Homo sapiens: one gene and its partners. The protein of the gene in region 3 purifies or fractionates together with the protein of the main gene of each other region. This does not show direct contact. Each region holds a gene or a part of one and is shown on either strand. Other genes may lie near its edges.

Region 1 (3,652 bases), on a different chromosome or scaffold from region 3:
GTAGTGGTACAATCTTAGCTCACTGCAAACTTGCAAACTCCATCTCCCAGGTTCAAGTGATTCTCCTGCCTCAGCCTCCTGAGTAGCAGGAATTACAGGTGCCTGCTACCATGCCCAGCTAATTTTTGTATTTTTAATAGAGATGAGGTTTTGCCATTGGCCAGGCTGGTCTCAAAGTCCTGACCCTCAAGTGATCCACCTACCTCCCAAAAGTGTTGGGATTACAGGCGTGAGCCACTGTGCGTGGCTCAAGAATAAACTTTAGAAGAGGCCTGTTATTTTATATTAGCCCAAAGCCAAACTGATCACCTTGACTCAAAGACCAAAGAGGTTTGATAACCTCTTAGAAAAATAAAACCACTGGGAGGGCCAAGTTTTCCTTCATAAAATAGTCTAATGTCTGCTGTAGCTCTTAGCAAAGTTAATCAATCAGGCCCAATGTTCTATCTGAGATCTCGGTAACTGTCTCTCTTTATCCACTGAGGCCATACAGAGAAAAACAGAAATTAAAGCCACTCAGAGAATACTTATTTTCAAGCCAGTAGCTTCTGGCAAATATAAGCCATTTAAATACCCAAGGCCCTGTAACAGTTTTATTTTTTAGCTTTGTCTTGAACCATCCAATCTTACACAAATTAAATACTCTTTTGAGACCACTCTACCATACTAGCTATTACAAAGAAGTGTCGTTTTTCTATTCTCAAAACTGGGCATGGGGGAGACATTGTTCTATCTCACATAGAGAAGTCTTCAAGTCATTCCCATACAAATTAAAAAGAAGGGGTGTTAATGCATTGTTCTGCTCAAAATGATTAGTTTTTCAGATGTCCATGCTTGTTCCTTTTCAGATATCTATCATCTGTTGCTTTGAAGCCCTAAATCTCAAAAATTAAAATTCATACCATCTTTGTTCCTTCTTTGTTTTTGTCCTTCTCACCTCTTTGCACCAGCCCTTCCCTCCTGCCCTATTTCCCTCCTCAACCAAACTTACCTCCTGTCTGAGTGATGACTTGTATGTCACTTGAAAGGGGACCATCTCCAATTGAGGTAAAAGCCAGGACTTTGACAGAATATGTTTTCTGGGGCACTAAGTTGCCAATAGTAGTGATTTGGCTGTCAGCTACATTGTGTTTCATCCAGTTGTTGACATGTTGAGTGGGATCCATTGTATAATAAACTCTATATCCTTGGATCTGTCCATTTGGCTCTTCAGGTTCCTTCCACTGTACCAAAATGGTGGTCGAACTCAACATTCGTGCCTGGACATCCCTCGGGGCACTGGATGGTGCTTGCTCTGAGGTTTGTGTTAGCACAGGTTCGCTGGGAGGCCCCCGCCCAATGTTATTGACAGCAACAACCCTGAATTCATAATCCGAGTAGGGACTTAGTCCAGCGACACTGTAGCGTGTGGTCGCCACCCCATCAATTTCTTTGTAAAGTTCCTCAGAGTTTTTAGGTTTATGCTGAATTATGTAATAAGAAACAGGCTCAGGGTTCCCAGAGTCCCACGTCAGTGTGATGCTTGTAGCTGTGCTCTCGGTCACTACAGGAGTTCCTGGAGGTTTGGGTAAGGCTTGGATGGGGGAAGATAAAAGACAATGACTACCCATCATCCCTATAATATTTCAAAAATCTATAAACTCTACTATGAAAATGACAGGATTATGTATCTACTGAAGATTTAATTAAATGAAATTATAGCAAAGAGTAGTTTTCTGAATGGCCAAGAAGGACAGGAAAACATTCATAGGTGACACAAATCCTGCTTTCCTAGAAGGGCTTGATAGCATATTTTTAGGCTTGTATCCAAATCCTCTACTTATTAGCTAAGTGATCCTGCACGCATTTCTTAACCTCTCTTTGCTTTAGTTTCCTCATGTGGAAATGGGAAAAATATTATTATTTAAGTCATATTATACAGCTGTATGTAACTGTATTTCATGGGTTTGCTGTGAAGACTAATGAGCCAATCCACTAAGATTCTTAGAATGTAACTGGAACCCACAAAAAAACCTTAGTATTAGCTGCAGTTATTACTATTATTATACCAAAAGCTTGGCCAATTAGCCCCTTGCCCCAATAAATAAATGGTATAACTGAAATACCGATAAACATTGAAAAGAACAAAATGTGGAATACATTGAAATGAAATTAAATTGCGATGAAACAATAACATCTATATTCTGGTAAGACACAATACCATTACTAAAAATTTTCTTGTAAATGAAAAACCAAAAATTTTAAGGTGCAAAAGAATAGAAATTTCAAATCAATGCTTTATTCTTAATATTTAAAAATTGCTGAAGGAAGTAAATTAAGGCACATTCACCAATCACTTTTTAAGGTATGTTATGGTCATATTAATATGCATTCTATATTCCACATCAGAAATATCCAATGTAGCTACATGACAAATATTTGCAATAAAATCCATCTTTTTAGAGGTCTAATTCTTTCTTTTTAGCAGAAGAATACAAATCAAAATACTACTAATTAAAAATATAAACTGTCTGCTTTGCTGACCTCATATTCAAGTGCCTTATTCTAAACAATGATTCTGAAACGCAGTGCTATTAGGGTAGGAAGGGGCATTCTAATAGTTGACTCTTTAGAGAAATCTCAAAGGGTAACATTCATATAATCAGCCCATTAGTGTCCCTGTTTCCTTGCCAACATAAAGGCAAGAAGTATAACACCCCCTAGAATGGCAGCTTTTCAAGAGCAGCAAACTTGTACTTCTGACTTACTGTAAAATTGTGAATGCCTAGAATGCTGCCTGGCACTCGGTAGGTTTTTAATGAGAATCGTTAAACAGTTAACTGAATAAATGAGTCAGCACCCATTCACCTCATTCTCTTCAACCTGTTCTTTTGTTTTGATTTATTTTAATTTGCCATTAAGATTCACTCTTATGTTTTATTTGTTTATTTTTGAGGTGGAAAAGACAGGGAAGTGGCAAGAGTCAGGAAAACAAAGATGAGAAGGTGAACAAAATATTAGTTTAAAGTGGCCCCTGCTTTTGAATTCTTAAAGGTCTTCAGCAAGCCTTCAAATATTTAAAGCTGAAATGGTAATTATAAAAAAGGTGATTCAATATTTACACACTACTCAAAGAACTACAGAATGATAGTATTTTGTCAAGGGAATTTACTGAAAATAATAATAAAATGAAATTTGTTTAAATATTCTGACCTGGCATTTTTCAAGGCTGTGTGTGCTCCAGATTTCCCCTACATGTCTTTCTGAACTTTCAAAGCAAATACAAATATTGCTAATTAAAGCTGTGCTCACTGATATTTAGCTGACATTATTAGTTTCACTAAGTCACATTTATTGTACAGTACAGGTTTTATGTCTGTAATGTACGGATAAATACATGTGTGCTTATTATATTAAGGTTACACAATATAACATTATTTCACGATTGTAAATGTTGACAATGTGTACCTTTGTTCTCATGTCATTAGTTTTATATAGCATATATTTGATATATACGCTTGGTTAGAGATGCGATACCAATTATAACGTGTATTGCATTTTCTAAGATCACCCCCTAGAATGGCAGCTTTTCAAGAGTAGCAAACTTGTACTTCTTACTTGCTGCTGAATTCCAAATGCCTACAACATTGCCTAGGAAAAGAAGATAATTTGT
Region 2 (3,652 bases), on a different chromosome or scaffold from region 3:
CTGCCATGTGCTCCCATCTCCAGTGGAGGGTGGGGCAGAAACAGGGCTGGAGGTGGGGCCACAGCTGGGGGCGGGATTTAACTGTGGGAGAGTCTTGGCTAGGGACAAATTCTGGAGCTTGTAGTGGGGTGGAGTGGAAGTAAGTGGGGGGTGGGGGGTGGGGCCTGTATTGAGCTCGCCTCCTGACAGCTTGATGGGCAGGGCCTCAGATAGAGCTGAACCAGGATTGGTCCGAGGCCTCACTTGTGGGCAGGCCCCTGGCAAGTGGGCGGAGCCTGACCCTCTTGGCCCCACAGGCTTTGAGGGCACGCTGTGTGATCGCAACGTGGACGACTGCTCCCCTGACCCATGCCACCATGGTCGCTGCGTGGATGGCATCGCCAGCTTCTCATGTGCCTGTGCTCCTGGCTACACGGGCACACGCTGCGAGAGCCAGGTGGACGAATGCCGCAGCCAGCCCTGCCGCCATGGCGGCAAATGCCTAGACCTGGTGGACAAGTACCTCTGCCGCTGCCCTTCTGGGACCACAGGTGGGACCGGGGGCTGGGGCAGAAACAGCACACCTGGAGGGGCACAGAGGGTTTGGGAATGGTGCATCTAGTGGGGCACAGTGGTGGCCACTCCATGCCATGTTCCTGGCCCCTAGGTGTGAACTGCGAAGTGAACATTGACGACTGTGCCAGCAACCCCTGCACCTTTGGAGTCTGCCGTGATGGCATCAACCGCTACGACTGTGTCTGCCAACCTGGCTTCACAGGTGGGCAAGTGGCTGCCATGAGAGGGGGTCCTTAGATCGAGGGTGAAGTCACTCGTCTCTGTGGGCCTGTTTTGCCCGTATCTTTGCAGACTCTTGTCCAACGAGGTTGTCCGTGCTTTGCCCTGAGTCTGTGCTGTCTCATTGGCATAAGGTTGTTTCGAGATTATTCTGCAGGCTGGGCGCGGTGGCTCACGCCTGTAATCCCAGCGCTCTGGGAGGCCAAGGCAAGTGGATCACTTGAGGTCAGGAGTTCGAGACCAGCGTGGCCAACGTTGCGAAGCCCCATCTCTACTAAAAATACAAAAATTAGTCGGGTGTGGTGGTGGGCGCCTGTAGTCCTAGCTACTCGGGAGGCTGAGGCAGGAGAATTGCTTGACCTCAGGAGGCGGAGGCGGCAGTGAGCCAAGATTGTGCCACTGTACTCCAGTCTGGGCGACAGAGTGAGACTTCATTTCAAACACACACACACACACACACACACACACACACACACACACATACAAAAACAAACAAAAAGATTATTCTGGAACATAGATGAAAGTGTCCAAACTCAGTGACTAGGTTATTTCTGAATGGGTCTAAACTAATCCTTAGTGGAAATGAATGTGACTTTGCTAGGTGTGTTGGCTCATGTCTGTAATCCCCCAGCACTTTGGGAGGCTGAGACATGAGGATCACTTGAGCCCAGGAGTTCGAGACTAGCCTGGGCAACATAATGAAACCCTGTCTCTACAAAAAATAAACACACTCCCAAAGCCAGATTAGTCAATACGTAGATAAACACGCACACACATGCACACACAATTAGCCAGACGTGGTGGTGCGCAACTGTAGTCCCAGCCACTCGGGAGGCTGAGGTGGGAGAATCGCTTGAGCCCAGGAAGTGGAGGCTGTGGTGAGCTATGATCATGCCACTGCAGTCCAGCCCGGGCGACAGAGTGAGACCCCATCTCAAAAAATAAGAAGAAGAAGAAAAGAAAAAGAAAGGGACTTCATGGAAGTTTGGGGACCAGAATGATCTGGGGCAAGTCAGCTCTTGGTTGAGGAGGCGGGTGTCCTAATCTGCACAAGAGCTGATGCGTTATGAAAAAGAGGTCATTGCTCGGGGGTGTGGGTGTGCTAAGTGGGGTCACGTCGTCCCTCCCTGGTTGTCCCTGCTGACTTTGTTCTGAGATGAGATTGCTTGTGTACTCCCCAGGGCCCCTTTGTAACGTGGAGATCAATGAGTGTGCTTCCAGCCCATGCGGCGAGGGAGGTTCCTGTGTGGATGGGGAAAATGGCTTCCGCTGCCTCTGCCCGCCTGGCTCCTTGCCCCCACTCTGCCTCCCCCCGAGCCATCCCTGTGCCCATGAGCCCTGCAGTCACGGCATCTGCTATGATGCACCTGGCGGGTGAGGGCCCTTCTCAGCCTCAGACACTGCCCCCTCTCCCTGGCCCACCTCCCTGGCCTGACTACCTTCCCCTGCCAGGTTCCGCTGTGTGTGTGAGCCTGGCTGGAGTGGCCCCCGCTGCAGCCAGAGCCTGGCCCGAGACGCCTGTGAGTCCCAGCCGTGCAGGGCCGGTGGGACATGCAGCAGCGATGGAATGGGTTTCCACTGCACCTGCCCGCCTGGTGTCCAGGGTGTGTACCTCACCTTCCCTCTGCAGCCCCACCAACACCATGGGCCTTCTCATCTCTCTTCTCCTCTACTCTCTCCTCCCGCTATGTTAGCTTCTTTTTTGCTTTCAATCATTTCCCTCCAGGAGCTTGGGAGGTGGGTATCAAGGTGGGGACCCTGGGGTTGGGGGAGGTGGGGGGAGATGGGATCAGGGAGTCCCTCAAGGCTATCTCTGCTTCCCTCTCTTCCACCCCCAACAGGACGTCAGTGTGAACTCCTCTCCCCCTGCACCCCGAACCCCTGTGAGCATGGGGGCCGCTGCGAGTCTGCCCCTGGCCAGCTGCCTGTCTGCTCCTGCCCCCAGGGCTGGCAAGGTATGCCACCTGCTTCTCTTCCCTCCTCCTCTCCATCTCCTCTGCCCCCTACCCTATCAGGGATGATGCTGGGGATCCAGAGAGGGACCCATCCCCAGCCCTGCCTTTGAGAGGGGCTTCCTTCTTGGAAGGACAGAGCTGGACACTGATATGCAGCCTGTGTGGGTCAGCCCTTGGAAGAGGAAGAGTTATGGGGCTAGAGATGCTGGGACTTAGGGCGGGGTTTAGGGTACAGCTTCCTGGAGGAGCAGACCTCATAGTAGGTATTTGCCACCTACTGAGACAGGGAGACGGCCATTCTGAAACTGCATATGCAAAATGCCCAGACACGAATGACAGCACGGCTTATTTTGCCTTCACCCATCTCGGCCTGCAGGTTCTTCCTGAGCCCCAGGTCCCTGAGACCCTGCTCTGTACCCTGTAACCCTAGGTGTAACCTTGCTCCCTACCCCCAGGCCCACGATGCCAGCAGGATGTGGACGAGTGTGCTGGCCCCGCACCCTGTGGCCCTCATGGTATCTGCACCAACCTGGCAGGGAGTTTCAGCTGCACCTGCCATGGAGGGTACACTGGCCCTTCCTGCGATCAGGACATCAATGACTGTGACCCCAGTGAGTGCAGGGGAGCTCTTGGGGGTGCTGCTCTGGGGAACACAGTCATTAAGCTTGAACTGTGTGCCTGGCACTGTGCTGTCATTTCATCTTCACAGTTATCTTACTTTTCCCGTTTTATTTATATGGAAACTGAGGCCCGAGGAGGTTGAGTGACTTCTTGTGCAAGCCCATGGAACGAGTTAGGGAATGAGCTGGGCTTAGAACCTTGGAGTCTGTGTGCTGCCTCTTTTTTTTTTTTTTTTTTTTTTTTTTTTGAGACAGAGTCTTAGCTCTGTCGCTGGAGTGCAGTGTTGCAATCATCGCTCACTG
Region 3 (3,652 bases):
TTTTGCTCTTGCTGCCCAGGCTGGAGTGCAATGGTGCAATCTCAGCTCACTGCAACCTCCACCTCCAGGGTTCAAGCGATTCTCCCACATCAGCCTCCCAAGTAGCTGGGATTACAGGCACGTGCCACCACGCCCAGCTAATTTTTTGTATTTTTTTTTTAGTAGAGACAGGGTTTCACCATGTTGGCCAGGCTGGTCTCGAACTCCTGACCTCAGGTGATCCACTTGCCTCAGCCTCCCAAAGTGCTGGGATTACAGGCATGAGCCACCGTGCCCAGCCTGGCTGTTTTCTTTGTATTTTAAAAATTATGGCCAGCGTTCTTTTGTGTGTATGTTGGGCAGGGGGAGAGGGGGATGGCAGTAAAAGTCACAGGAAGTGTAGTTGATGAACCTTTCTAATAAATCATTTTAATAATTTCAGCTGCTCAGTTAAACTAAATTTGGCCTGAGGCTGCCTGCATACTTTGAGTTCCCACAGAGCAAACTGCAAGCAAACTTAGTATGTAAACAAACTGCAACTTATCTTAGCAGTATATTCTCTTAAGACAGAGACTGGCTGAGACAAGTTGCTGAGTCTCAGCCAATCATGGCAGCCAAGCATCAGCCAATCACAGGCTACCGACTGATGAGCTCCTGTCCATACCCAACACCTGATCACATCACCCTCAAATAAATAAGGTGAACACCCAACTGTAACCAATCAGCTATTTCTGTAGGGCACTTCCTTTTTCTGTCTATAAATACTGCCTGACCAAATTGCTTGGGGGAGCCTCTGAACTGGTCCTGTTTTTGAGTGCTGCCAGATTCATTAATCACTATTTGCTCAGACAACTCTACTATTTATTTGTCTAAAGTTGTTTGTTGTTGTTTTGTTTTTTGTTTTTGTTTTTTTTACACAGGCAAGTAAACCTGAAGCCAAACAACACTGAATCTATAAACAACCAGGAGATGCTCGGTGCAGTGACTCATGCCTGTAATCCCAGCACTTTGAGAGGCCAAGGCAAGCAGATCACCTGAGGCCAGGAGTTGGAGATCAGCCTGGCCACCATGGCAAAACCATATCTCTACAAAAAATACAAAAAAAAATGAGCCAGGCATAGTGGCACCCACCTGTAATCCCAGCTACTTGGGAGGCTGAGACATGAGACTCGCTTGAACCCAGGAGGAGCGGGTTGCAGTGAGCCGAGATCACACCACTGCAATCCAGCCTAGGCAACAGAGAGAGACTGCCTCAAAAAAACAAAACAACAACAACAAAAAAAACAAAACAGGAGACTATTCAGTGTAATTTATTCATTCCTTTCTAAGAGACGGGATCGTGCTCTGTTGCCCAGGCTGGAGTGCAGTGGCGCGATCTCGACTCACTGCAAGCTCCACCTCCCAGGTTCACGCCATTCTCCTGCCTCAACCTCCCAAGTAGCTGGGACTACAGGCACCCACCACGACACCCAGCTAATTTTTTGTATTTTTAGTAGAGACGGGGTTTCACCGTGATAGCCAGGACGGTCTCGATCTCCTGACCTCGTGATCTGCCCGCCTCGGCCTCCCAAAGTGCTAGGATTACAGGTATGAGCCACTGTGCCTGGCCGGGATCTACTTTTTTCTTATTTAGGTCAGGATTGCAGGGACAGGGACAGAGTGAGAGGGACTTCATGACTGTGATGCTGTTTCAGTTACAAAGTGCATTTATACATAAGATTTCATTTGATCTTTGGTTATACGGTAAACAGAACTTATCTACCAGACGGGTGTAAAAGTTTGGAGCAGAATGTTTAAAAAATTGAGTAATCTCTACCTCTGGAAATGATTAATTAAAAGATATAAAATGCTCTCTCCAGCACTATGTAAGGGTGTCCCAGGGAGAAATGTCTTGATCCGAGAATGATGAAACCAAAGTTCTAGTTCTAGCTCTGCATTAAATATGTGTCCTTACGAGAATCCCTCAATTTCTTTGGATTTGAGTCTCCTCATCTGTCAAATGGAGGGGAGTGTGTGTGTGTGTGTGTGTGTGTGTGTGTGTGTGCACGCGCGCGTGCAGGAGGATACTCTAGACACACTGAGGAGTAGGGAGTTTGAACACCTTCCTCTGAAAATGCTTCCAAACTGGTAGGGAGAAAGAAAGGTGGAACATGATGAGAATGACCTCTGTTCCCCAAGCCCCCTTTCAGCTCAGACATTCTCTCATTTTAAATTTGGCCATGGAAATGACAATTTGAGGCACTCCAAGAACCTGGCTCTTTGCAGATGAGTGAAAGTTGTGCTAAGTAAGACACTGGAGAGGCTGTCTGAGAGGTGAGAGTGTGGCAGGGGCTGTCTGGCCATAATCAGAATGTGATTGTGGAGGAACAACCTGAACCAATGCCCCTCATGGCTGGAGGAGTCTGAAAAGAACATTACATGCTGGAGCTGTTTGCTGATCTCTCCGTCCAGGTGTTAGCCAAAGTCAGATGCTCTGGCCACAGCCTCGGGTGGACAAGAGGCGCACTCATGACTCTTAACAACAGCACCTACCCTCAAGCCAGCAAATGGAGGAGCCAGGATTTGAGCCCAGGTCTGTCTGACCCAGAACCTGTGTTCTCAGCCATTCTGCTGTATTATTCTACTAGTCAGCAAAGAGCTCCATAAGAAGCATCCATTTGTCCAAAGGACCATTCTGTATCCCAGGAGAGAAACCATTGCCCAGCGATTTGCCTTTCCGGTACCTGAGCTCCCTATGATGGCCAGCATCTGCCCACTTCTCACTTTGAAGCTTAGGTTCTGGATGCCCAGCTCACAAGAATTCTGGCAGCTGGGAGATGTCCAGGGCATCTTGAACTGAGCCAGCTGCTCAAACCAAGGGACCTGAGAGGCCAGGTCCACCTGTGGGGAGATATCAGAAGGTTCCTTAGAGAGCTGAATGGTTCAGAGGGCTTCAGCAACTTCTGTTCAGCATCTTCGTTCCCCAGGTGGCCCCTCTCCACAGAGGATATGTCCTCACCTACACACAATAGGCCCCAACCCAGGTTCTACCAAACACGGAAGCAGGACCCATGCTGAGAACCTGTAGCTGCTGTTTCTAGGTCTGAAGATAAGAAGAATGAAAAGCATGTACAGGCCAGGCATGGTGGCTCATGCCTGTAATCTCAGCACTTTGGAAGGCTGAGGCAGGTGGATCACCTGAGGTCAGGAGTTTGAGACCAGCCTGGCCAACATGGTAAAACCCCGCCTCTACTAAAAATACAAAAATTAGCCAGGCATGGTGGTGGTTGCCTGTAATCCCAGCTACTTGGGAGGCTGAGGCAGGAGAATCACTTGAATTTGGGAGGCAGAGATTGCAGTCAGCCAAGATTGCACCACTGCATCCCAGCCTGGGTGACAGAATGAGACTCCATCTCAAAAAAAAAAGTAAGGAAAAAAGAAAATCATGTGCAATAGTGGTACAGAAATAAAAATAAAACACGAAGCAAAATGTCTTCACTTGATACTAGTAATTTACTAATAATTTATCAGATGTTTACTATGTGCAAGACATTGTGTTAATCACTTAACATCCATCACCTTATTCAATCCTCACTGCAAATCTATAACATAGATATGCTCAGAATCCTTGTTTTACAGATGAGGCTCAGGGCAGTTAAGCAACTTGCTCAAGGTCACACAGCTGGTAAGTGGC

The links.
Region 1: the proteins of ABCG8 (region 3) and PTPRD purify together in Homo sapiens (affinity purification with mass spectrometry; 2 studies listed by BioGRID and IntAct, with this or other methods). This does not show direct contact.
Region 2: the proteins of ABCG8 (region 3) and NOTCH3 purify together in Homo sapiens (affinity purification with mass spectrometry; 2 studies listed by BioGRID and IntAct, with this or other methods). This does not show direct contact.

Annotation. Positions count from the first base shown.
Region 1 is NC_000009.12:8,516,857-8,520,508, forward strand, and holds part of PTPRD (receptor-type tyrosine-protein phosphatase delta isoform 1 precursor), read right to left. Parts: intron 1,574-3,652; coding exon 992-1,573; intron 1-991.
Region 2 is NC_000019.10:15,183,983-15,187,634, reverse strand, and holds part of NOTCH3 (neurogenic locus notch homolog protein 3 precursor), read left to right. Parts: intron 1-296; coding exon 297-530; intron 531-646; coding exon 647-757; intron 758-1,955; coding exon 1,956-2,148; intron 2,149-2,226; coding exon 2,227-2,378; intron 2,379-2,615; coding exon 2,616-2,729; intron 2,730-3,184; coding exon 3,185-3,340; intron 3,341-3,652. UniProt on the Homo sapiens protein: Functions as a receptor for membrane-bound ligands Jagged1, Jagged2 and Delta1 to regulate cell-fate determination.
Region 3 is NC_000002.12:43,845,362-43,849,013, reverse strand, and holds part of ABCG8 (ATP-binding cassette sub-family G member 8), read right to left. Parts: intron 2,860-3,652; coding exon 2,703-2,859; intron 1-2,702. UniProt on the Homo sapiens protein: ABCG5 and ABCG8 form an obligate heterodimer that mediates Mg(2+)- and ATP-dependent sterol transport across the cell membrane.